Linked DNA regions of Homo sapiens: all the other regions are linked to region 2. Evidence: fine-mapped expression QTL. A gene starts in region 2. Each other region holds a variant in brackets. All regions are shown on one strand. Distances are between the middles of the regions.

Region 1 (5,113 bases), 240 kb before region 2:
CTGGATATGGTCAGAGGGAGCCACCGCCCTGCTTCCTGTCAACACTCATTCCAGTTTGCTCTCCTTCCAGCTCAAAGCAGAACTCCTGGACATTGCCATGGAGAACCAGACCCTCAATGAGACCCTGGGTTCTTTGTCGGATGCAGTTGTAGGTTTGACCTACAGCCAACTGGAATCCCTCTCCCCCGAGGCTGTGCACGGAGCCATCTCCACCCTCAACCAGGTCTCAGGTTGGGCCAAGAGCCAGGTCATCATCTTGTCTGCCAAATACTTGGCCCATGAGAAGGTCAGCTGGAGTTTTAAACTCTTTTTTATTCCCCTAAGATGACCTAAGTGTATTAGACCTGCCAGGCTGCCATAAAAATATACTGTAGATTGAGTGACGTAAACAACATAAATTTATTTCTCACAGTTCTGGAGACTGGGAAGTCCAACATCGAGGTGTCAGAAAGGTAGGTTTCATTCTGAGGCCTCTTCTCTTGGCCTGTAGGTGGCCGCCATCTTGCTGTGTGCTCACCTGACCACATGAGAGCAAGCTCTCTGGTGTTGCGTCTTACAAGGAAACTAATCCCATTGGATCAGGGCCCCACCTGACCCTCATTATCTCATGACCTCATCTAACCCTTAAAGGCCTCTTAAAGGTCTCACCTCCCAATGCCATCACATTAGGGGTTAGGACTTTGACATATGAATTCTTGGGAGACACAAATATTTAATCCATAACAATCAGTTATACACACACAGCAGGGGGCAACCAATCAGTAAGAAGATGATGCTGAGGAGGACTGCCTGGGTTCAAATCCTTGCTCTGCCATTTACTAGCTGTGTGACACTAGGCAATTTGCTATTTTCACTTTGACTCAGTTTCTCTATTTGTAATATGTGGACAACAATAGCACTTACTGCCGGGCAAGGTGGCTCACACCTGCAATCCCAGCACTTTGGAAGGCTGAGGTGGGAGGATCACCTGACGCCAGGAGTTTGGGACCAGCCTGATCAACATGGTGAAATCCCGTCTCTACTAAAAATACAAAAATTAGCTGGGCGTGGTGGTGCATGCCTGTACTTCCAGCTACTTGGGAGGCTGAGGCAGGAGGATGGCTTGAACCTGGGAGGCAGAGGTTGCAGTGAGCAGAGATTGTGCCACCACACTCCAGCCTGGGCGACAGAGCAAGACTCCATTTCAAAAAAAATTAAACAACAACAACAACAAATCAGTAGCACTTATCCTGTAGCATTGCTGCGAATATTATGTGAGTTGGTACACATGAAGAAGCTAGACCACCAGGTGACACCACAGAGTAGGAGCTCAAGGGGCATTAGCCATCCCTGAGTGGGATCAACGTGTGGGACTCATCCCAGGATTTTCCTGCCTGCTGTTAAGCTGCTATTAGGTTGATGCAAAAAGTAATTGCGGTTTTTGCCATTACTTTGGGATTAGGGATGATGCTATTTTATTCCAATCTTGGGCTGCAGAGAGGGAACTGTCAGGCAGACAGTCCTCTTTGGTGGGGACAGGAGTCTTAATCTGTGTTCTTGCTGCTCCTGGGGTGGAAAATGGACATTCTTTTGGGGACAATTAATGTCCCTGGGTTGGGTCCAGTCCAGAGGGCTCCAAATCTGGGAGACTTGAGTTCTAAGCATTTTGGTGTCATCTAATTTTTTTTTTGATACGGAGTCTTGCCCTTGTCGCCCATGCTGGAATGCAATGGCACAACCTCAGCTCATTGCAACCTCCGCCTCCGGGTTCAAGCAATTCTCCTGCCTCAGCCTTCCGAGTAGCTGGGATTATAGGCACCCACCACCACACCCAGCGAATTTTTGTGTTTTTAGTAGAGACGAGGTTTCGCCATGTTGGCCAGGCTGGTCTCGAACTCCAGACCTTGTAATCCGCCTGCCTCAGCCTCCCAAAGTGCTGGGATTACAGGCATTAGCCACCGTGCCTGGCTTTTGGTGTCCTTCTCGTTTAGTCCACACTCCTGGCCACTTCCCAGGATGCAAACTGGCTCACAAGGATTGGATTAGGACCCATTCCAATCAAATAATAATAACAAACATTTGTTTATTTTTGGCTTCTGGATATTAATTTTAATTACTTTGAAACAACATAATTTACTACCAGATGTTTAACAAGCACCCATTATAATTGCTAAACTGTGAATTTAGTTTTAACTGTGTCTGACCAACTATACAAAACTCATCA[A/G]TTTTTATTTTGACAAAAGGTAGTAGGCTGGGCATGGTGGCTTATGCCTGTAATCCCAGCACTTTGGGAGGCCAAGATGAATGGATCACTTGAGGCTAGGGGTTTGAGACCAGCTGGACAACATGGTGAAACCCTGTCTCTACTAAAAATAGAAAAATTAGCTGGCCATGATGGTGCACACCCGTAATTTCAGCTACTTGGAAGGCCGAAGCAGAAGAATTACTTGAACCCAGGAGGCAGAGGAGGTTGCAGTGAGCCGAGATCATGCCACTGTACTCCAGACTGGGCTGAGCTACAGAGCAAGACTCTGTCTTAAAAAAAAAAAAGAAAAAAGTAGTAGGAATCCCAAAGAATAAAGGAGAGACTACTCCTTAAAGGTCATGTTTACTAACCTAGCACCGTAATTCTAGTGTTAGTACCTCCCATGCAGCTTGAAGGAGGATATGGGAAGAGGTGAAGATGTTGAAAATGTAAGGGGCCCCATTTTGCTTGTTCTAAAGCAAAATACCACAGTGTCTCACAAGGAAGAAAATCACTAGGCCAGGCACGATGGCTCACGCCTGTAATCCCAGCACTTTGGGAGGCCGAGACAGGCAGATCACGAGGTCAGGAGATCAAGACCATCCTGGCTAACACGGTGAAACCATGTCTCTACTAAAAATAAAAAAAAAAAAATTAGCTGGGCATGGTGGCGGGTGCCTGTAGTCCCAGCTACTCGGGAGGCTGAGGCAGGAGAATGGCGTGAACCTGGGAGGCGGTGCTTGCAGTGAGCCGAGATCGCATCACTGAGGTTGGAAATGAAAACAAAAGCTTTTGATTCAGGTGGTAAAATGAAAACAAAAGCTTTTGATTCAGGCGGTAAAGGGGTTTAAGAGTTATAGAGTAGAATCCATGCATCCAGAAGGCAGTGCTGGAGTCGGCCTCAGGAACTGGGGGGTTTCTTCTTCTTTTTTTGTTTTTTGAGACAGGTTCTCACTATGTTGCCCAGGCTGGAGTGAAGTGATCTGATCTTGGCTCACTTCAGCCTTGACCCCCCAGGCTCAGGTGATCCTCCCACCTCAGCCTCCTGAGTAGCTGGGACCACAGGCACATGCCACTACGCCGGGCTGATTTTTGTATTTTTTTGTAGAGATGGGATTTTGCAATGTTGCCCAGGCAGATCTCAAACTCCTGGGCTCAAGCAATCTACTCGCCTTGGCCTCCCAAAGAGAAGGAGTAGGGAATTTCTTCTTGGCATCCAAGTCTTTTTAAATTTCTTCAAGTTTTTAAAGCTGGGTTTGGTATGTCATGGTTCTGAGCCAGATATATTCCAACCACATTCCCCAAAGTAAATCCAAGTGGGAACTGGAGCAGGATGTCGGTAGAGAGGGCGAGGGAGGGATGAAGGGCAGCTGCAGCTCCGAGGGCTGGTCCTAGCCTGCTTCCTCCATCGCGGGGCCAAGGGAGGGAGGGTGTGGAATAACAAACATTTACTGAACACTTACTATGTGCCAGGTTGTGTTCTAAGTGAATTAATAACTTAATCCAACAATCCTCTGAAGTCAGTAGTGCTGTAGTCTTCATTTTCCAGTTCATTCTTGTGAGGTACAGAGTGTGTAAGGGAACTGGAAAAGGCCACGTGAAAGTTACGCAGCTGGGATTGAACCCAGGGCACCTGGCCTCAGAGCCATCTTGTTTAACTCCTGTGCTCACTGTCTCCATTATGGCACCATGACCAATGCCCACGCACTCCCACTTTCTGACTCAGGTACCAGGCCAGCCCATTCATCTGGTCTCTTCTAGCCTCGTGGTGACTTTATGTTGAAGGCTTTGAATCCTTGTTTCTGGACCTTGACTGGGGCTCCATGGGTCCACCTTGACAGTCCTCTCTGAATTTGATTTTAGGGAGTTGAGGGAGACGGTTTTGTTCCCTCCCAGCCCAGGACAAAGTGGTTTGTCTCTTTCCTAATACCCAACTCTTCCTACTGAGGGGTGAGGCCACTTTTACTCAGAAGGCAAGAGGTCAAAAGGTCTTGCCTTCTTTGAAGACAGCATGAGATCACCCATTATACACAGAATAACTAAAGGAACCCACTCAGCTGTCTTTTCATAGAACCAAAGCATGTCCTTGATTATATGGAAAACTATCTAGCATCTTCACTCTAAAGGAAGGAAAAAAAACCCAAGTATAATTTCTTTCTTTCTTTCTCTTTCTTTCTCTCTCTCTCTTTCTTTCTTTCCTTTCTTTCTTTTTTCTTTCTTTCTTTCTTTCTTTCCTCCTTCCTTTCTTTCTTTTCCTTTCTTCCTTCCTTCCTTCCTTCCTTCCTTCCTTCCTTTCTTTCTTTCTTTCTTTCCTTCTCTCTTTCTTTCTCTCTCTTTCTCTCTTTCTCTCTTTCTTTCTCTTTCTTTCTCTTTCTTTCTTTCCTTTCTTTCTCTCTTTCTTTCTTTCTCTCTCTCTCTCTTCTTTCTTTCTTTCTTTCCTCTCCCTCTCTCTCTCTCTCTTTCTTTCTTTCTTTCTTTCTTTTCTTTCTGACAGAGTTTTGCTCTTGTTGCCCAGTCTGGAGTGCAATGGTACAATCTCAGCTCACTGCAACCTCTGCCTCCTGGGTTCAAGCAATTCTCCTGCCTCAGCCTCCCAAGTAGCTGGGATTACAGGAACCTGCTACCATGCCTGGCTAATTTTTGTATTTTTAGTAGAGATGGGGTTGCACCATGTTGGCCAGGTGGTCTCGAACTCTTGACCTCAGGTGATCCACCCGCCTGGCCTCTCAAAGTGCTGGGATTACAGGCGTGAGCCACCATGCCTGGCCAACTCTCTTTCTTGATAGAAGGAAGGAAGGCCTGTGGAGGCAGCATCTGTCTGGCTCACTGCTGTGCCCCTAAGGTGTCACCCATCCCTATACTTGGCACATAGATGGGCTGAGTGCACGT
Region 2 (5,000 bases):
AAATTATGCATTGGGGAAGCCATGATTAATGCCTCTGGCCCTAAGATGGCAAGGTAATGTTGTTCCCAAGTATAAACCCACATCACCTTCCTCTGGTGTGTTTTACTCCTACTGTTGCCTGCTTTCTCTTTACATTCTCCCACCCCATACTCACCGCGAGCGCTCAGGCTAGGTAGTTAGGCTCCATAGAGTCAAATTGGACCCCACATTAACGAAACTAACAATTCGAGCTTTCCAGCAATGAACTCATCTGCTCTTCCATGTCTACTCTTTTCCTGTCTGCTGGTTTCCTCTCCCAGGGCTTTCAGTGTGTTCTACGCAGAAACCAGTTCAAGGACTGGGTTTTCTTCTGCAATAAAATGCTGGAGTTGTGGCAGAGACCTCCACAGTGAGAACAGCCACGGAGTTGGCTAGGAGGTGACATGATGTGGAAGTGGTGGATGTGTCCACAAGATGGCACTCCTAATTTGTAGCTTAATGCTTAATAGGACATTTTGCAATTGACAAACTTGGGATTTTATGATTTATGTAGCTGATATCATGAATTATGTTTCAAATCCTGCCACATTTTGAACAGAATTTATTTTTGCCCCTTTCTGATATTGGGTCATAACCTAAGAATGAGAGGACATTATAAGCAGGTGTGGGTGTGTGTGTGTGTGTGTGTGTGTGTGCACTTGAGTGTGGAGACTTTTGTGTTCCTCCTACCTGACCTGAACTGTTGAATGATGAAGTTACAATGATTGGACTCAGGGGTGCAGCTAGCTAACTTGGGAATTGGGGTTTTGAAGTACTGGAGACAGCTTTGTATGCCATGTTAATGAATTTGAATTTTATCCTGAAAAACGTGGCTGTCGTTGAAGAATTTTAAGCAGGCAGGTGGCTTGATCAGAGCACTGCTTCCCAGATTTCACTCAATGGTACCTGTATAACACATTCATGATTTTTGCTGTATCTCCGTATCATCAAGTTACTTAACGTTTTTACACCAACTTTTATTATTTTATAAATGTACTTAAAGAGGAAATTCACTACTAGCATTGCTTGCCATAATCAAAATAAATATATTATTAAAATGGAACAGTGCTAAATAAGGTGTACACATGGACATAGAGTGTGGAATGACAGACAATGGAGACTCCGAAAGGTGGAGGGGTGGGAGAGAGGTGAACGATGAGAAAGTACTTAATGGGTACCATGTACATTATTCGGGTGATGGGTACACTAAAAGCCCAGACTTCACCATTACTGCAATATATCCATATAACATAACTGTACTTGCGCCCCTTAAATTTATACAAATTTTTAAAAGGAAAAAATGGAAGTGTTCATCTATGTACCAACTTAAAATCATCTCACGCACCACTAGTGTTAAATCTACCACATGTGGGGAAACTGTGTGGTATGAATTGGGTTGAGGGCGTCCCCAGCAGGCACAGAAATTGGGTTGGTGCCAGGTTCTTAATGCCCAGATCTTAATTAGAGAGCCCAAGTCCGTTGTAGGCCTGGAGCAATTCAGACACAAGGCAAAAAGAAAGTACATTTGCCTATGCCTTGTAACGTCTACACCACCAGCCTTTCTGAAACTATTGTGCATACGAAGTCATCCCAGGATCTTGTAAAAACACCGATTCGGATCCAATATGGGACCTGGAGTTCATACATTTCTAATCAACTCCTAAATGATATTGATGCTGATACTGTCGGTTTCCCAACCAAGCAACGTAGCAAGGTACGAAACTCTAAAGTCCCTAAAGGGCAGGGACCACGCCTCTCGCGTTGGCATAGTGCCTAGCTCAAGGCACTTTCTGGGTTAACACTCGCTGAGGACCGGAGTGAACGCCCCCGCCCCAAGTCGTCACGTGACTGACTTTCTCCAACTGCCGGTTTCGGCTCACATAACACACCTACTATCCAAAACATTTCTATTTTCCTAACACAAAAACTATAGCTAAGTTTTTATATTCTATGTAGCCCCAGCCTAGGACGTAAATTCCACGAGACCAAAAGCCTTGTGATGATTCCCCGAGGTTGCTGACCCTCCCGGTGTGTCCCGGGCCTGCTCTGGGGGACACAGCGGCGAATACGTTGAACGAGGCCCCTGTTTCACGGAGCTAAAGATCCAGTAAGGACTTCACCCAGCGAGAGGCAACTACGCCGGGCTTCGATACCCAATACCTCTGCAGAAAGGTGGAGTGGCAGGAATCTCCTGAAGCCTCCAACGTCCAGGAACGCGGAAACCCAGGGCCTCCAGTGCAGGTGTCATCCCGGAGGGCGCATGCGGAGTCCCAAGAGAGGCGCGTCCCATTGGACAATGCTGAGCGGAAGAGCCCAAGATAGCGGGGGGAGTTGTGACAGGCTGCTGCAGACGTACTTAGAAAAGGGGTGCATACTGGATATTCAGGCTAGGAGAAGAACGCAAAAAGCAGTGACGTACATTATTCTCTGCATATATTTACTTGGGAAATTGTGCGTCTCCCTATTCTGAGTCTTGGAGGAATTGGACTGGTCCAACCTTATAAAGAGAGCAGTAGAGCGCGGCAGTATAGAGAGTACCTCACGAAGGGGACGTGGGAAAGTGTTAGCGGGGAACGCTGGGAAACTCCCGGCCTCCGCCACCATCTTGCTTTCCTTTAATCCGGCAGTGACCGTGTGTCAGAACAATCTTGAATCATGAAGCTACTAACCAGAGCCGGCTCTTTCTCGGTGAGCTCAGGTGGCGGGTTTGGGAAAGGGCTGGGGAGCAGTGTGTCGACAAGGTGATACGAGGCGGAGGTGTCTGGTCTGGGGTCTGGGCCTTGGGATTCGGTCTGCCCTTCAGCTGAACCCTGCGGGCCAAGTGGGCTGCAGACTGGGTCAGGCTTTGGAGGCCCAGCTCATGCTGTGAGCACAAGAGACCTAACACCGGGAAACCTGAAGAGAGGGGCAGGACGTGAGAGCGGAGTTGAAGCGAGTCCTTGGAGAGACTTCTGAAGGTCACTCCGGTACTCAAGTGCTGGAGAAAGAGACCGTGAAACCCAGGGGGAGCGGGAGGACGGCGCACTTAGCCCCCCACCTTCACTTTATCCGCTGCAGCCTCTGCTCCTTGGTTTATCACGGAGCGTCAGTTTCCCCAGCGAATAAAAGTATAAGAAAGGAGCTAATGCAGATAGAACACTTATTACAGTACCTGGAACTTCATTGTTAAATACTATGGTGTCTTAGTAGTCTAACGTTGCTTTTCTTGATCGTATGTTAGACGGTTCCTCCAAGACGTCTCTGTTTGTCCTCAAAAGCTCCTTAATTAAGTTTCCCCTTCAAGCCTAAATTAAACATAGCTGTCACTTGGGGAAAACTCACACATCAGGGTTATATCACTGTGGGACAGTGGTTATTAAGAGGGGTAAGGGGGAACACTTAAAAAATCATAGCGAGGGACAGAATGCCCCCAGGGAACCGGTGGCGATGTTTGGAGACATATTTAGTTGCAACAACTTGTAAGGAGGGTGCTATTGGCATGGAGAGGCCAGGGATGCTGCTAAACTTCGCCTTACAGCAAAGAATTATCTAGCCCCAAGTGCCAGTAGTAGTACCTGTGTTGAGAAACCCCCCTAGATGGAGATGCAGAAGACCAGACCTGGGCATGGAATGTTCTTATGCTTTATGTTTACATAAATGTGCTGTGGGCTATATCGATTTAGGCTGTAATTGCATTAACCTTCCAGGTATACCTAGACACACCAGTGATTACCCTTGGAGGGAAGCACGGTTAGATTGGCAAAAGACCCCAACATTTCCTTCTCCATTCTATTTTGCAACAGAAAAAGCTCAGAGAAAACAGTTGGAGAGGCCCAAAGTAAACAAATTGCAGTAAACTTGAAAGCAATTATTTATGTGTCTAATTTTAGCACTTTATATAGGAGAATAAACTTAGATATATCTTGTTATTAGAACAAAATAATTTAGAAGATTGCATGACAGTTACTAGGATAATTTGCTGATTTGAATGGGACGATTAAGAAGCACATTACCGGCGGAGCGCGATGGCTCACACCTGTAATCCTAGCACTTTGGGAGTCAGAGGCAGGCGGATCACTTGAGATGAGGAGTTCGAAACCAGTCTGGCCATCATGGTGAAACCCCGTCTCTACTAAAAATACAAAAAAAAAAAAAATAGCCGGGCGTGGTGGTGGTGGGCGCCTCTAATCCCAGCTACTCAGGAGGCTGAGGCAGGAGAATCTCTTGAACCCAGGAGGCGGAGGTTGCAGTGAGCCGAGATCGCACCGCTGCACTCCAGCCTAGACGACAGAGCGAGACTCCGTCTCAAAAAAAAAAAAAAAAAAAAATTACCAACAAAGAGTTACTATTTGGGCACATTTGGTTGGAAAACACCTAAAATCTCACTTGGTAACGGAATTATAGATTATTCATATTTGAATTGCTATGCCCATATATCTTAAAAGTTTACTTTTTGGAAAATTATAGGCCAAAATTACAAAGAAGGTTAACTATACCATACCCAGCAAACTAAATTGATGACGATAAAGTAAAGCTAATTGTAATTCATAACTGAAAAGCAGTACTAAAAGCAAGTGATAACCAGCAGCCAACCTAGTACAGCACTAATGATGTACAACAAACAGCCTTCTGGACAGCACAGAGTGGAGGCATTGCAGACTGTGCAGGGATGTCCGGGAAACTCCAGTGAGGAGGTGTTCATTGGGTCTTGGGAGCACCAAATTTTATTCACTCATCATCTCCTCTAATAACCTCATGAACTTTAGTCATAATCAGAATGATTTGTATGGCATTGTATAACATTTGCCAAAACAAACTGAATAAAATGAATGCATTTTGGGTCCATTATCTAATATTTAATGGGACCCTTTCACCCTACCAGTAACTGCATTTTATATATTGAGAATCTGATGTGGATGAAGCCATTATTAATCTCAGGATGACATACATGTCATAAATGTTTTATTTAGTCAAAAAAACTAAGACCTTTGGTTGTGTGGTCT
Region 3 (5,140 bases), 610 kb before region 2:
AGTCAGGGTCTTTGGCTGGAGCCAAGCTCTCCACATGCAGCATGCAGGTGGGCATGTTGAATCTCCTTTGAATCTCATGAATTTGAGATTCTGATTTAGTGTAGCTAGGCAATTTCTAGCATATTGCAAGTATCAACATTCTGTTATGTGGCTGGGCACAGTGGCTTACACCTATAATCCCAGCATTTTGGGAGGCCAAGGCAGGCGGATCATTTGAGGTCAGGAGTTCAAAACCAGCCTGGCCAACCTGGTGAAATCCCTTCTCTACAAAAAAATACAAAAAAAAAATTAGCCCAGCATGATGGTGGGTGCCTGTAATCCCAGCTACTTGGAAGGCTGAGGCAGGAGAATCGCTTGAACTTGAGAGGCGGAAGTTGCAGTGAGCCAAGGTCACACCACTACACTCCAGCCTGGGTGACAGAGCAAGACTCTGTCTCAAAAAAAAAAAAAAACCAACATTTTATTGTTACTTTAAAAAATGTATTCAGTGGAATCTATGTACTATGGCAATTTAATACCTACCATTAGCTATTGGTAAAAAATACATGGAAAGCTTTTCTCTCCCCTTCCCCTCTCCGCCCCTCCCCTTCCCCCTCTCCGCCCCTCCCCCTCCCCCTCTCCGCCCCTCCCCCTCCCCTCCCTCCTCCCCTCCCCCCTCCTTCCTTCCTCTCTCTTGCCCTCCCCTCTCTTGCCCCTCCCCGTCCCTTCCCCCGCTCACTCTGTTGCCTGGAGCTAAGTGCCATGGTGCCATCTCAGCTCACTGTAATCGCCTACTCCCAGGTTCAAGTGATTCTCCTACTTCAGCCTCCCAAGTAGTTGGGACTACAGATGCGTGCCGCCACACCTGGCTAATTTTTGTATTTTTAGTAGAGACAGGGTTCACCATGTTGGTCAAGCTGGTCTCGCACTCCTGACCTGAAGTGATCTTGCCTGCCTTGGCCTCCCAAAGTACTGGGATTACAAGCGTGAGCCACCACGCCTGGCCCGCTTCTCTTTAATAATCAGAAATTTTATGTCTTTCATTTTTCTCCTTTCATTCATATCAACATTCTACTTCTCTCACAGAATTTCATCTTTCTGCTTCCCTCCCCTGTCCCCTCGAGATGGAGTCTTGCTCTGTTGCCCAGGCTGGAGTGTAGTGGTGCCATTTTGACTCATTACAACCTCCGCCTCCCAGGTTTAAGTGATTCTCCTGCCTCAGCCTCCTGAGTGCCTGGGATTACAGACCCCCACCACCACACCTGTCTAATTTTTGTATTTTTAATAGAGATGGGGTTTCACCATGTTGGCCAGGCTGGTCTTGAACTCGTGACCTCAGGTGATCTGGCTGCCTTGGCCTCACAAAGTGCTGGGATTACAGGTGTGAGCCACCGTGCCCAGACTACATTTTTATGCTTAAAAGCTTTTTAAAATTAGTCATTATAATTCTCTGCAACAAAACTACGTGTATACAATGAAAATTAAAGTTTTTCTGTGCTCTTAATATTCTAAGAGTTTAAGAAAATTATGATTGAGACATCATTACAGTGAAAATTAATACACAGTACATCAAAGCAAATGTATCTCATTTTGATTAAACACAGCAAGTAAAATTTGTTGGAAATGTATCTTTAAGTGCGTGGATGAGACTTTTGCTCTATTAGTTTAATTACCCATGGACAAATATTGCCAGCCTGAAACAGCTTTTAATGTCCACTTTAAGAACTTCATTCATTTAAATAAGTTGGGACTAAAAGGGGTTTTGTCATAGCAGCATCACGCCACTCTCAGGCCCTTCTGCATTCCATGTCGGAAACCTCAGTTCCTAAGACTCACTCGTAGTGATCTCTGCAGAAGAGTGGAGATGCAGTGAGCCGAGGAAAAATGAAGCATTTCCTCTTCTCTGCTGTGGGAGTCGAGAGTGAGGGACGGGGGTGCACACATGCTGCACAAGGCAATGCCTAAGAAACTTCTCGTTCACCCCGTTCACACCTGTTGCCCCCACAGAGCCGATGATGAGCACCCCACCTCCTGCCAGAGAGCTCCTGCAGCCACAGCCGCAGCCGCAGGCCCTGCACTACGCGCTGGCCAACGTGCAGCAGGTGCAGATCCACCAGATCGGAGAAGACGGACAGGTGCAAGTAGTACGTACCCTCTCCACCTCGCACCTTGGGAAAGGGGGCTGCGGGGTGGGCCACGGCAGGGCCCTGGCGGCTTCCACCAGTTCCGCTGTGTTTC[G/A]GGAGCACAGTGATAGCTTGGGAGGAGGCACAAGGTTCCCATTTAAAGTAGAGGTCATCATGGCCATGAGCTCTTAACATTTCACAGGTGGGGGCGGCTGCTGCAGAGCCTAGGGATTGAAGCACATGGTGGGGTGGGGCGTTCAGTCAGCTCACCTCAGTCCTGCCAGCAGGCAGGCGGGCAGTCAGCTCCAAGGGTCAGGCTGTGCAGTGGTCCCTGCCCCAGCTCGTGCTCCTGGGAAGCATCGGAAATATTTCTCAGCTCAGAAGTGCAGGCGTCCTCTTACTGAGGGAAAGAGTAATTTCCTTCTAGGATCAGTGGCAAAAGCTTGAGGTCATTGTTCCCATGCAGCGTTTCCCTTGGAGTTACTCAGCACACCCAGGTTGGGCGGGCACTGTCCCAGCAGCAAGTCAATGTCCTGCCTTGCCCATGCGGAGTTCTCTGTTGGGGTTTTGTGACCCAAGCTGTGGTCAGTCTGATGCGCCTAGGGGCTCGCTCCCGGGTGAAGTCCCTCTACAAACACCTCCTGGATTCTGTGGCACGAGAGTAGGGGGCGGCTGAGAAGAAGACTTTTCTGGAAGCTTTGCTGAGTGACTAGAAATTTTACATGCACCACTAGACATCGCCTATGTTTTTAGTGGCACCAGCCCCCTTGGGCCCTCTGAAGACAGGTCATCGTGTGCCTCCGTGTTACCAGGGCTTTCTCCTGGAAACAAGGTCCTCCACTGTTGAGAGTGGGTCGTGGCTCTCATCTCAGTGTGGCTTCAGCGTGCTGTCTGGAAGAGGGAAGGCTTCCAGAAAATTCTGGGGCTTTTAGAGGGGGCATTACCCTTCCTCTTCCAAAGGAGATGAGACAGTTATGAATAGTGAATCTTATTTAATAAGCTTATTAATTTATTTGACATTCACAATGGCAGTTCCTCTCATCTTGTTAGTAAGAAGTTCTTTGAAAGCGTTCCAGAGTAGATAACTTTGTCATAAGGCTTACATAGAACATTCTACAGGAGTTTAAGATCCATTTCGACTAAGAGAGAATTTCAAATAAGATAAGTATTCATTTCATTTACAGGTTTATAGGAAATATTTGTCTGCCCATATGTATAAACAGTGGATTCTTTGATTTTTTTTGAATCACATTTGTTAGTGTTTCCTCAAACTGTTTAAATAGTCATATGAGTGTTTCTTTGATTTGAAAAATGTTGCCTGCCCTGTTGTGAGTGTAGGCACGCAAACAGCTCCCCTGCTTCAGCCATACACTGCTTGCGTAGCCTCCCAGCATCCCCAGAGAGCTGAACGTATCATTTGAAAAGAGGTGTCATTGTGATTTTCTATTTCCCCTCTTTTCTGTGTGTCATGCACATTTTAAAATTTACTTGTTTAGTAACATTTAAAGATGTATATATCTTTCCTGGGACCTATTGCTCCTTTGTGAAGTACTGGAACATGTTCTGTGTTACACAGTACCCCCCCTTACCCATGCTTCCACTTTCCTAGGTTTTAATTACCCATAGTCAACTGTGATCTGAAAATATTAGATGAGAAACTCCAGAAATAAACAATTTGTAAGTTTCAGATTGCATACTCTTCTGGGTAGTAGCATGATGAAGTCTGATCGTCCTGCTGTGTCCAGCCTGGGACGTGAGTCATTCCTTTGTCCAGCATGTCCAAGCTGTGTGGCACGTATGGGCAGGAAAAAGCATAGCATATACGGGGTTCCGCACCATCCACGGTTTCTGACGTCCACGTGGTGGGGGGAGGGGGCGCTTCTTGAAACCCTCATGGATGAGGGGGACTACTGTGAACCAAAAGCTTAATTTAAAGAGGTGACCACAGACTATATTGCACTATTCAGGATTTAGTTATCTTTTTGAATTGTAAACAGATAATCAAGAACAAACATTCCGGAAGATGTTTCTTGTTTCCTTTGCTTTTTATTTTCTTCTGATGCTTCTTGGTGTCTTTTCTTGCTGCGGATCCCACAGGGACACCTCCACATCGCCAAGGTGCCGCAGGGGGAGCAAGTCCAGATCACGCAGGACAGCGAGGTGAGTCATCTCTCGCTGCAGCCCTGTCCCTGCAGGCACTGTGCCCGCATGCTCCTGACCTTCATCGGTGTCACAGTGCGAGGGCAGCAGGGAGCCCCCAGGATGGGGAACATGGGCGAGGGCTGCAGGACTCCGCTTCCAGGGTGCACATAGCAGGCCTGCAGTCTCTGTGGCCTCACTGCCTCCCCCTCCTGTCCGTTGGTCTCCACAGCTTCTGGTCTGTCTTGGCAAAGATCTCCTGGGTAGATGTTTCTGCTTCTGGCTCGAAGTGCCCTCTGAGTACCCTTCTCTCCCTGTCTGGCCCTGCCCTTCCTGCCAGGGGAGGGCCCCAGTGTGGCCGAGATGGGGTCTGCCCCTGCACAGGTGACCTGACATACCCCCTCACCTGCCATGTGGCCCCAGCTTCCTGGTGGCCTCTACGGGATTAGTGCCGATTTCATAGGATGGTGGGGAATCCCACAAGGTGATGCTGCCAGTCCTGAGAGCTGGTCATAGCCCTGACGCACCTGCCATGTCTGTGATTGTCTCAGTTTCTGGAGCTCTACCCAGCCACGCGCTCAGAAGTGCGGGCTCAGCTGCTGTTGGGGTCTGGAATGTGAAGGCGGGAGTGACAGTCTGAGTTCTTGGAAAGCCGAGGCCGGCCGGTTGCGATGCTCCGTGTTTGCGTGCCAGAGCAGGACTGTCTTCCGGGTGGCTGGTGACCATCCTTCGACTCTGGGCTGTTTCCTGCAGCACAGGCAGCAGCAGGCACAGGGCAGTAAGCAGCGCACACGTGCTGTACTGAGTGACCGTGGTGCGCTCTGGGGGATGAGGAACATGGCTGTTTCTAGGTCGTGCCAATGGCACCAGCTTTGTGTTTGGTGTATAGTAGTGTATCG
Region 4 (5,140 bases), 92 kb after region 2:
GTGGGACTATTGACTAATTAACAGTTTATAATTGGGAGCAACTTCTTACCCTGTAAAGATCAACAATTAAAGACATGCAGCATTGGGAATTTAACATATGGAAAATTTTTCATCTGTTTCTGTGATCTTTTAACTGTCTTAGGCCATTAGGTTGCTAGCATGACACATAGAAACTGTATATTCTTCATGAGGACAGATAAGCATTATGAATAGCAAGAATTTTAAAGTTTTCTGCTTTTTTTCATTAAATTCTGATGGTACCCAGCATTTTAGTCTTTTAGTCACAGCAGTACATTTCCATTTCTGACATAACTATCATTTGACACATATAGGGATTATTTTTCCTTAAATATGTATCTTTACATTGCTCACATGGATGCTTATCATCTGACTATTCACACACTCTTGCCTCATCTTCCTATATTTTATCAGTGAATATTTATTGAGCACCTCTTTTATTCTAGCCATTTTGCTAGGTATCCCAAGGAAAGCCTACTGTGTTCTGAAAAATTGGAATTCATTAATTAAATTAAACAGGACTAACATACTATACTTTTCCATCCAGAGAAATGCAAAATTATACCTTGATTCAAGACAAAATAGTTTGTCCCTCCCAGCCATAGAGAAAGCTGAGTTGTTTGTTACTTTTAGATCTTAGGTACAGAATCTGATAAAGTCTAGGTGGTTCTGTATACCAGCAGTTGAATTTATAATCGTAGAGACTTGCCTTAAATATATGATCAGTTTAGGTAAGTTCGAGAAATTCTGAAGTGTCAATTATGTTGTATTAGTCCGTTTTCATGCTGCTGATAAAGACATACCCAAGACTGGGTAATTTATAAAGAAAAAGAGGTTTAATGGACTCACAGTTCCACGTGACTGGGGAGGCCTCACAATCATGGCAGAAGGTGAAAGGCCTGTCTTACATGGCTGCAGGCAAGAGAGAATGAGAGAGCCAAGTGTAAGGGGAAACTCCTTATAAAACCATCAGATCTCATGAGACTTATTCACTACCATGAGAACAGTATGGGAGGGAACCCCCCGCCCCCATGATTCAATTATCTCCCACCAGGTCCCTCCCACAACCCGTGGGAATTATAGGAGTTTCAATCAAGATGAGATTTGGGTGGGGATAGAGCCAAACCACACCATATATAAAAATAGTATAGATAATAGTTATATGGAGTACTACCCACTGAAGGGATACATGTTTACCTGTTCCCCCAAGTTAGGTAGCCAGAAGTGTTGTGTTTGCATTGTTGGCACAACCTGTCAACATTAATAATAACTAATTTATTAAGTACTTCTGTGTGCCAGGGATTGTTCCTAAGCTTCCTACAAGAATAAATTTATTTAATCTTCCTAAGAATCCTGTGAAGTGGGTACAGTTGAGCATCCCAAATCCCAAATGCTCCAGAATCCAAAACTTTTTGAGCACTGACATGATGCTCAAAGGAAATGCTCACTGAAGCATTTTGGATTTTTGGATTGGGGATGCTCAACCGTAAGTATAATTAATGCAGATATTCTAAAATCTGAAAAATCCTGATATCTGAAACACTTCTGGTCCCAATCATTTTGGATAAGGGATACTCAACCTGTACTACTTACTCTCTCCATTTCACAGATGAAGAAAGTGAGGTAGGGAAAAAGATAAGTAACTTGCCCAAGGTTACAGAGCTGGTAAGTGGCAGATCCCCAGGCAGCCTTGCTGTATAGCTTACTGTCTCCTAACCATTATTCTATGCTACCTTTCATGGGCCCTCATGTTAAGAGTAACTCTTCAGTTTAGCAAATTATTCTGCATTATATGATGAGCTTACATATAATAGCAATAATAGACCAGAAGCGGTGGCTCACACATGTAATCCCAACACTTTGGGAGACCAGGGTGGGCAGATTGCTTGAGTTCATGTGTTCAAGACCAGCCTGGACAACTTAGCAAAACTCCATCTCTACAAAAAATACAAAAAAAAAAAAAATTAGCCAGGTATGGTGGTACATGCCTGTAGTCC[C/T]GGCTACTCGTGAGGCTGAGGTGGGAGGATTGCTTGAGCCCAGGAGTTGGAGGTTGCAGTGAGCCAAGATCGTGACACTGCACTCCAGCCTGGGCAATAGAACCAGACATTGTCTCAAAAAAAAAAAAAAGGCAATAATGTAACTAGGTGAAAGGAGAGATTCAGTTCTTCTCTGTGGTTTCTTATACACAATCAAGATTCTAATATGTTCATAGTTAATTCATAGTGTAAAGTTTGGGTATTTTAGAAAAATGTGATGTTTTCTGATGTGACTTTACAGGAGTGGGAAAGGCATAGAAAGGCAGCGCTGGGGCTAGAGCACCATAGTCTTTATAAATAAAATGTATTGTGTTATCAGTATTGGCTCTGGGCCTTGATGGGTAGTAAAATATTTAGGAACTGAGAAAAATGATTAGGTATTAGATCCTGAAAATAAAAATTTGCTTTTTGCATTTCTTAAAAAGATTTCCTACGCTAAAAGGGTGGCAGTAAGTTTAAAAAGGTTTTAGTTACTGTTTTAAAAAAATAATTGCATAGCATATTTCATTTACTCAATAGCCACATGTGGATTTTTGGATTTGGGATGCTCAACTGTAAGTATAATTAATGCATATATTCTATGGATCATTTATGGATCCATAAAATATTCTAAAATACTTATGGATAATTTCTGGGGAAAAATTGCAAGTCTTTTTGAATGAATTTAGGTGTCAGTAGTAACTCATTTTGATTTCTTTAATTCTCTTTGGGGGCCTTGTCAAGAAAAATTTGAGTTAAGAGATATATATTTTTTTCTTTCTTCACTAGAACTCTTTTTTTTTTTTATACTTTAAGTTTTAGGGTGCATGTGCACAACGTGCAGGTTAGTTACATATGTATACATGTGCCATGGTGGTGTGCCGCACCCAGTAACTCGTCATTTAACATTAGGTATATCTCCAAATGCTATCTCTCCCCCCTCCCCCCACCCCACAACAGGCCCGGGTGTGTGCTGTTCCCCTTCCTGTGTCCATGTGTTCTCATTGTTCAATTCCTGGCCATATCATCACCATGAAAAGCAGGCAGCTGAGGAATGTGGGATTTGAGTGCACAGGAAAGCTAAAGGGACACTTCAACCCCTATTAATGGCTTTATTGCTCTATTTAAAGACTAGAGCTATTGCTCTGGCCAACATGGTTCTTTTTTGTTTTTTAAACTTTAGTAATACAGTCGATTCTCATGTGGTAGTTATGTTCTGTAAAGTCACTGCAAACATTGAATTAGTGAATACTGGATCATTGCCCCTGGGGGAAATAGGGTTAGGTTCCTGCAGGTCTCTGGTCACATTTCATCAACTGATCAATACATAACCTCATTGTATGTCTCTGTTTTAGGACATATTATTTAATATGTATTGATTCAATTACATTAATATTATATATTAATAATCCTGTACAAGAATATATGTCAACAGTATTGTGCCAGAAGCACTGTAACTCATGCCTGAACGAAGTTTCCCTAACACACATATTTTCTCTGAAAGGGAAAATCCTTCTTGCACTTAGGAACACTAGACGGCACTTGAGCACTATAATTGGGACCATTTTAAACAGTGAAATCATCAGTAAAAGGCACAAAAATGTGAAAGACGTGGCGCTGAAGAGACCACAGAAAAGACATGCACTTACTATAGGAGAACTGAGACAACAGAGCATTGCCATGCTAAGCTGCATATGGGAACATGGCTGTCATGTGACTCAAATTTTTTTGCCACTCTACACGTGGATTACGTCCTCAGATGACCACAAAAGTGCCACAACTATTGATTTGGAGCTTGCAGATAAATTTTAGTGAGTAGGCATATTTGCAAGTATGGAATCCCTGAATAATGAGGATCGACTATATATATTAATGCATTCTACATTTTAAAATGAAAAGTTAAAATATAGGACTCGCTCATCCCTACCTTTTTCACCCCCTCCTGGCATCTTTCCTTTCTGGAACTACTATCAGTTTTCTACATATTTATAAATATGTGGACTTACAGAAATATATATAATTTTTTAATAAATGGATCTCATGATATATACTATTGTGTGGTTTGCTTTTTTCTCATGTGTTAGAGATCTTTCCACGTCAATATACACAGAATTATTTCCTTTTAGTATTCTATACTGTTTATGCACCATAATTTTTTTTTTTTTTTTTTTTTTTTTAGACGGAGTCTTGCTCTGTCGCCAAGGCTGGAGTGCAGTGGCACAATCTCGGCTCACTGCAAGCTCCGCCTCCCAGGTTCATGCCATTCTCCTGTCTCAGCCTCCGGAGTAGCTGGGACTACAGGCGCCCGTCACCACGCCCGGCTAATTTTTTGTATTTTTAGTAGAGACGGGGTTTCACCATGTTAGCCAGGATGGTCTTGATCTCCTGACCTTGTGATCCGCCCGCCTCGGCCTCCCAAAGTGCTGGGATTACAGGCTTGAGCCACCGCGCCTGGCCTATGCACCATAATTTAACCATTCCTGTATTGATAGATATTTAGTAATAGTGCTATTATAAGTAATAGTGCGGTGAACATCTTTGTACCTGTTTCTTTTTCCCTATATGCAGGTTTTTCTGTGGGTTGCATATGTAAAAATGAAATTGCTAAGCTGAAAGGTGTATGCACTTGAAGTTTCCTTAGAAAGGCAGTTGTGTCAGGTCCTCTGGGAAGCTGACACTGAGACAGAGTTAGGACTGCAAATAGTTCACTGAGTACCTGTGAAAGATAGGCAGTCAGAAGCTGAAGGAAGGGAAAGAGCTCAGACTGATTTACATCTAACAGTTACAGCCTATTCAGTGGGGCACTCTGGAGTGAAGATTGCCTATTAGAAGGATAGTACTACCAGTTGGTTAGAAATAGCCAGGCCCTGGTACTCCCATGTATTCAGTTATTGACCTGTGACTGCCAGGGAAGAAAGTGGCCTGATCTTGAAAGACGAGGGAGTTAAGTCCTAAAGGCACATCAGAACTGAACTGCAAGGTATCTTCAAGGGAGATCTTGAGCAGTGTACTTCCATGGTTGCTACTGCAGTGTAGGACTGTGTAGCATAGCAAATAACACAGATTATAGAGCCAAATTCCCAAATCCAACATCTCTGTGTAAGAAA
Region 5 (5,085 bases), 130 kb before region 2:
ACTTGTGACTGACCCAGATCTTCACGGAGGAAAGGGGATTCGAACCCGGCTGACCCAGGAGCCTGGGCTCTATACTCAGTGCAGCATTCTCACAGACACCCAAGATAACGTTATCCTCATGGAAACGAGCTCGACGAAGTGACCTACCCCAGAGCCTCAAGGCTGTGATGATGCTGGCATGAGAAACAACAGGAGAGTTACCAAGAGGTGTTACCCCCTTGACTTTATTTATTTATTTATTTATTTATTTATTTATTTATTTATTTTCTTTTGAGACCGAGTCTTGCCCTGTTGCCCAGGTGGAGTGCAGTGGCGTGATCTCAGCTCACTGCAACCTCCGCCTCCCCAGTTCAAGCAATTCTCTTGCCTCAGCCTCCCAAGTAGCTGGGATTACAGGCGCATGCCACCACACCCGGCTAATTTTCGTATTTTTAGTGGAGACGGGGTTGCACTGTGTTGGCCAGGCTGGTCTTGAACTCATGACCTCAGGTCATCCACCCGCCTCGGACTCCCAAAGTGCTGGGATTACAAGCGTGAGCCACCGCACCCGGCCAAACTTAAATTTTTAAAAGAGGAACAGAAGTCAGCCAGACCAACAAAAGAGCGACTGGTGTTCCAAGCATAGGAAACAGAGGAAACAGAGGCCAAAACCTCGGGACTGTGGAGGATGTAGAGGGAGAGCCGGGGCTGCCCCTACTCTCAGGGAGGGGGAAAGGTTGCAACTTTGGAAACTGTACAGGCCTATCAAAAATACAAAAATATCCAGCCTGGGTGACACGGTGAAACTCCATCTCTACAAAAAATTTAAAAAATAAAAATAATAAAAATTATCTGGGTGTGATGGCACACACCTGTAGTCCCAGCTACTCGGGAGGCTGAGGATTGCTTGAGCCTGGGAGATAGCACCACTGCACTCCTGCTTGGGCAACAGAGTGAGACCCTGTCTCGAAATAAATAAATAAATTTTTTAAAATGCATATGTATGGGCCCGGCGCAGTGGCTCATGCCTGTTATCCCAACACTTTGGGAGGCCGAGGCAAGTGGATCACCTGAGGCCAGAAGTTTGAGACCAGCCTGGCCAACATGACAAAACCCTGTCTCTACTAAAAATACAAAATTAGCCAGGCATGGTGGCAGTGCCTTACTAATCCCAGCTACTTGGGAGGCCGAGGCAGGATAATAGCTTGAACCCAGGAGGCAGAGGTTGCAATGAGCCAAGATTGTGCCATTGCACTCCAGCCTGGGTGACGAGCGAAACTGTGTCTCAAAAAAAAAAAAAAAGTGTGTGTGTGTGTGTGTGTGTGTGTGTGTGTGTGTGTGTGTATGTATCTCTCTCCAGGAGTTCAAGACCAGCCTGGGCAGCATATGGTGGTGCATACCTGTAGTCTCAGCTACTTGAAAACTGAGGAGGGAGGATCGATTGAGCCCTGGAGGTCAAGGCTGCAGTGAGCTGTGATTGCACCCCTGCACTCCAGCCTGGACAACAGAGCTAGACCCTATTTCACAAAATAAAATACAGCAATTTGGTTTTTTTGTTTTTTGTGTTTTTTTTGAGACAGTCTCGCTCCGTCACCCAGGATGGAGTACAGTGTCGTGATCTCGGCTCACTGCATCCTCCGATTCCCAGGTTCAAGCGATTCTTGTGCCTCACCCTCCCCAGTAGCTAGGATTACAGGCATGCACCACCATGCCCTGCTAATTTTTGTATTTTTAGTAGAGACAGGGTTTCACCATGTTGGCCAGGCTGGTCTCGAACTCTTGACCTCAAGTGATCCACCCACCTTGGCATCCCAAAGTGCTGGGATTACAGACATGAGCCACCACGCCCCACCAGCAGTTTGTTAAACATAAACCATAGCTCTGTTTTGCAACAGTGTAAAATCAGTAACTGTCTTTCCTGAGTCTCTATTTGGTCCTTACTGAGTTCCTTGGGAATGTTGGACAGGAATCATCTGTGTCTCAAGGACAGAGGAAATAATTGCACCCTAGTTCACAAAGATACTTCAAGATAACTGTTTAAATGAGAATCTCTTCTTCACTTCCAAGGCAAAGCGAAGCAAAAACAAAAAGCAACAATA[G/A]CAAAACAGCAATTTGACAATTATCTGTTTTGTTTTGTTTTGGTTTGAGACAGGATCTCATTGTCTAGCCCAAGTTAGAGCGCAATGGCGCGATCACAGCTCGTTGCAGCCTCGGGCTCCTACAGCTTATGCAATCCTCTCACCTCAGCCTCCCAAACCCACACCACCAAGCCCAGCTAATTTTTTGTATTTTTGGTAAATACGAGGTCTCACTTTGTTGCCCAGACTGGTCTTGAACCCCCGGCCCAAGTGATCCTCCCACCTTGGCCTCCCAAAGTGTGTCTCCCCACCTACACTCCCATTCTTTCCCTTAAAAAAAGTCTGAGTCTGGGTGCAGTGGCTCACACCTGTAATGCCAGAGCTTTGGGAGGCTGAGGCAGGAGGATACCTTGAAGCCAGGAGTTTGAGACCAGCCCAGGCAACACAGCCAGACTCCGTCTCTACAAATAACACTTTTAAAAAACTTACCCAGGATACCCAAAGGACTATAAATCATGCTGTTTTAAAGACACATGCACACATATGTTTATTGCGGCATTATTCACAATAGCAAAGACTTGGAACCAACCCAAATGTCCAACAATGATAGACTGGATTAAGAAAATGTGGCACATATATGCCATGGAATACTATGCAGCCATAAAAAATGATGAGTTCACATCCTTTGTAGGGACATGGATGAAATTGGAAATCATCATTCTCAGTAAACTATCGCAAGAACAAAAAACCAAACACTGCATATTCTCACTCATAGGTGGGAATTGAACAATGAGAACACATGGACACAGGAAGGGGAACATCACACTCTGGGGACTGTTGTGGGGTGGGGGGAGGGGGGAGGGATAGCATTCGGAGATATACCTAATGCTAGATGACGAGTTAGTGGGTGCAGCGCACCAGCATGGCACATGTATACATATGTAACTAACCTGCACATTGTGCACATGTACCCTAAATCTTAAAGTATAATAATAAATAAAAAATTAAAAAAAAAAACTTACCCAGGCATGGTGGCACATGCCTGTAGTTCCAATTATTTGGCAGACAGAGGTGGGAGAATCACTTGAACCCAGGAGTTGGAGGCTGCTGTGAGCTATGACTGCACCACGACACTCTCTGGCCTGGGTGACAAAGCAAAATCTCATCTCTTAAAAAAAAAAAAGGGAAAAAAAGCTTGACATATATAAAATAATATGTTAATGTAAGTTATAAGAACATAATGGGCTGGGCGCAGCGGCTCCCGCCTGTAATCCCAGCACTTTGGGAGGCCGAGGCAGGTGGATCACGAGGTCAGGAGATCGAGACCATCCTGGCTAACACGGTGAAACCCCGTCTCTACTAAAAATACAAAAAAAAAAAAAATTAGCCGGGTGTGGTGGCGGGCACCTGTAGTCCCAGCTACTTGGGAAGCTGAGGCAGGAGAATGGCATGAACCCAAGAGGTGGAGCTTGCAGTGAGCCGAGATCGCACCACTGCACCCCAGCCTGGGCAACAGAGTCAGACTCCGTCTCAAAAAAAAAAAAAAAAAAAAGAACATAATGAACACCTGTGAACATATCACCCAATTTAAGAAGCCGAACATTAACTAGGACAATTGACACTTACTGTGTGCTGCTCTCAGATCCCACCTTCTACCTGCTTTCCTCCCAAAAATAGTCACCATCATGATTTTTAAAAGTCATTTTAGTTTTCTTTGCATAATTACCATATTTATACTCCTAAACAATGCACTATATTTACTTTTATTTGTCTTTGCATTTTATAAAGTTATCTCCATGCTGTATTATACTGCTGTTTGTTTTCAACATTATGCTTTTTTTTTTTTTTTTTTTTGAGACGGAGTCTCCCTCTGTTGCCCAGGCTGGAGCGCAGTGGCATGATCTCTCGCCGTCCTCCCACCTCGGCCTCCCAAAATGCTGAGATTATAGGCAAGCCACCGCGACCAGCCTGAATATTCTTGTATCGTTTCCTGATGTATGTGTACAAGTGTTTTTCTAGGGTGGAACTGTTGGGTTGGAGGGGGCACAAAAAGCTTTTAGGAAAGGAGAAAGGAACAAATTGGATATCTACGATTTTTTTTTTTTTTTTTTGAGACAGAGTCTCTCTCTGTTGCCCAGGCTGGAGTACAGTGGCACAAGCTCAGCTCACTGCAACCTCTGCCTCCCGGGTTTAAGTGATTCTCCTGCCTCAGCCTCCTGAGTAGCTGGGACTACACATGCCCGCCACCACACCTGGCTAATTTTTGTATTTTTAGTAGACATGGGGTTTCTCCGTGTTGCCCAGGCTGGTCTCAAATGCCTGACATCAGGTGATCTGCCTGCCTCGACCTCCTAAAATGCTGGGATTACAGGTGTGAGCCATCGTGTCTGGCTATTAGTTTTCCTATTTAGAAATTGTTCATCTGGATCCTCCCTACCTTTCAGCCATTTGCAATACATTTGTTGAGCATAAAGAGTGACCTTCTTGGCTGGGCGTGGTGGCTCACGCCTGTAATCCCAGCACTTTTGGAGGCCAACATGGGTGGATCACCTGAGGTCGGGAGTTCGAGACCAGCCTGACCAACATGGAAAAACCCTGTCTCTACTAAAAATACAAAATTAGCCTGGCATGGTGGCACATTCCTGTAATCCCAGCTACTCGGGAGGCTGAGGCAGGAGAATCACTTGAACCTGGGAGGCAGAGGTTGCAGTGAGCCGACATCACTGCCATTGCACTCCAGCCTAGGCATCAAAACTCCCTCTCAAAGAAAAAGAGCAACTTTCTCAAAGAAAAAGAGCAACTTTCTTGTCCACAGCAAAGAATCACTGGAAGCCATTTGATGCAATATGACCTCATCTCTCTAGCCAGTGTCGATTGGGTTACAGGAGGGCACCAAGAAGCTTCGAAGGCTGTGCCAATGTACACTTCCAGCAATATCTTCTTAAGCTTGAGTGCAGCTCCTTATTTTCCCAAAGCACAGCTAAGACTAAGGCTGCCAAGTTTTTAAAAAGATTTAAAGGAAACTCTG

The links. PIP is the estimated chance that this variant, and not a neighbour inherited with it, causes the effect.
Region 1: its variant is fine-mapped to the expression of UQCRC2 in blood mononuclear cells (TOPMed, PIP above 0.99). The same link has a PIP of 0.9 or more in whole blood.
Region 3: its variant is fine-mapped to the expression of UQCRC2 in skeletal muscle (GTEx, PIP 0.96).
Region 4: its variant is fine-mapped to the expression of UQCRC2 in whole blood (INTERVAL, PIP above 0.99).
Region 5: its variant is fine-mapped to the expression of UQCRC2 in whole blood (INTERVAL, PIP 0.90).

The regions. Positions count from the first base shown.
Region 1 is chr16:21,709,818-21,714,930 of GRCh38, forward strand. OTOA (otoancorin) reads left to right here. Exons shown (of 29, transcript NM_144672.4): 13 at 71-286. Among named protein-coding and RNA genes, the nearest start is that of OTOA, 48 kb to the left of the region's middle. The variant A/G (reference allele first, on the strand shown) is at 2,204.
Region 2 is chr16:21,950,751-21,955,750 of GRCh38, forward strand. UQCRC2 (ubiquinol-cytochrome c reductase core protein 2) reads left to right here and starts at 2,611. Exons shown (of 14, transcript NM_003366.4): 1 at 2,611-2,706. The coding sequence starts at 2,674. RefSeq lists enhancers at 1,944-2,403, 2,492-3,209, 2,724-2,893, 2,904-2,953.
Region 3 is chr16:21,345,169-21,350,308 of GRCh38, forward strand. It overlaps the pseudogene SNX29P1. Among named protein-coding and RNA genes, the nearest start is that of CRYM, 69 kb to the left of the region's middle. RefSeq lists enhancers at 2,126-2,685, 3,838-4,645, 4,646-5,140 and a silencer at 5,006-5,140. The variant G/A (reference allele first, on the strand shown) is at 2,218.
Region 4 is chr16:22,043,054-22,048,193 of GRCh38, forward strand. The region is part of intron 1 of MOSMO (modulator of smoothened); the gene reads left to right. Among named protein-coding and RNA genes, the nearest start is that of MOSMO, 38 kb to the left of the region's middle. The variant C/T (reference allele first, on the strand shown) is at 2,016.
Region 5 is chr16:21,820,756-21,825,840 of GRCh38, forward strand. No RefSeq gene overlaps it. Among named protein-coding and RNA genes, the nearest start is that of NPIPB4, 34 kb to the right of the region's middle. RefSeq lists an enhancer at 1-524. The variant G/A (reference allele first, on the strand shown) is at 2,079.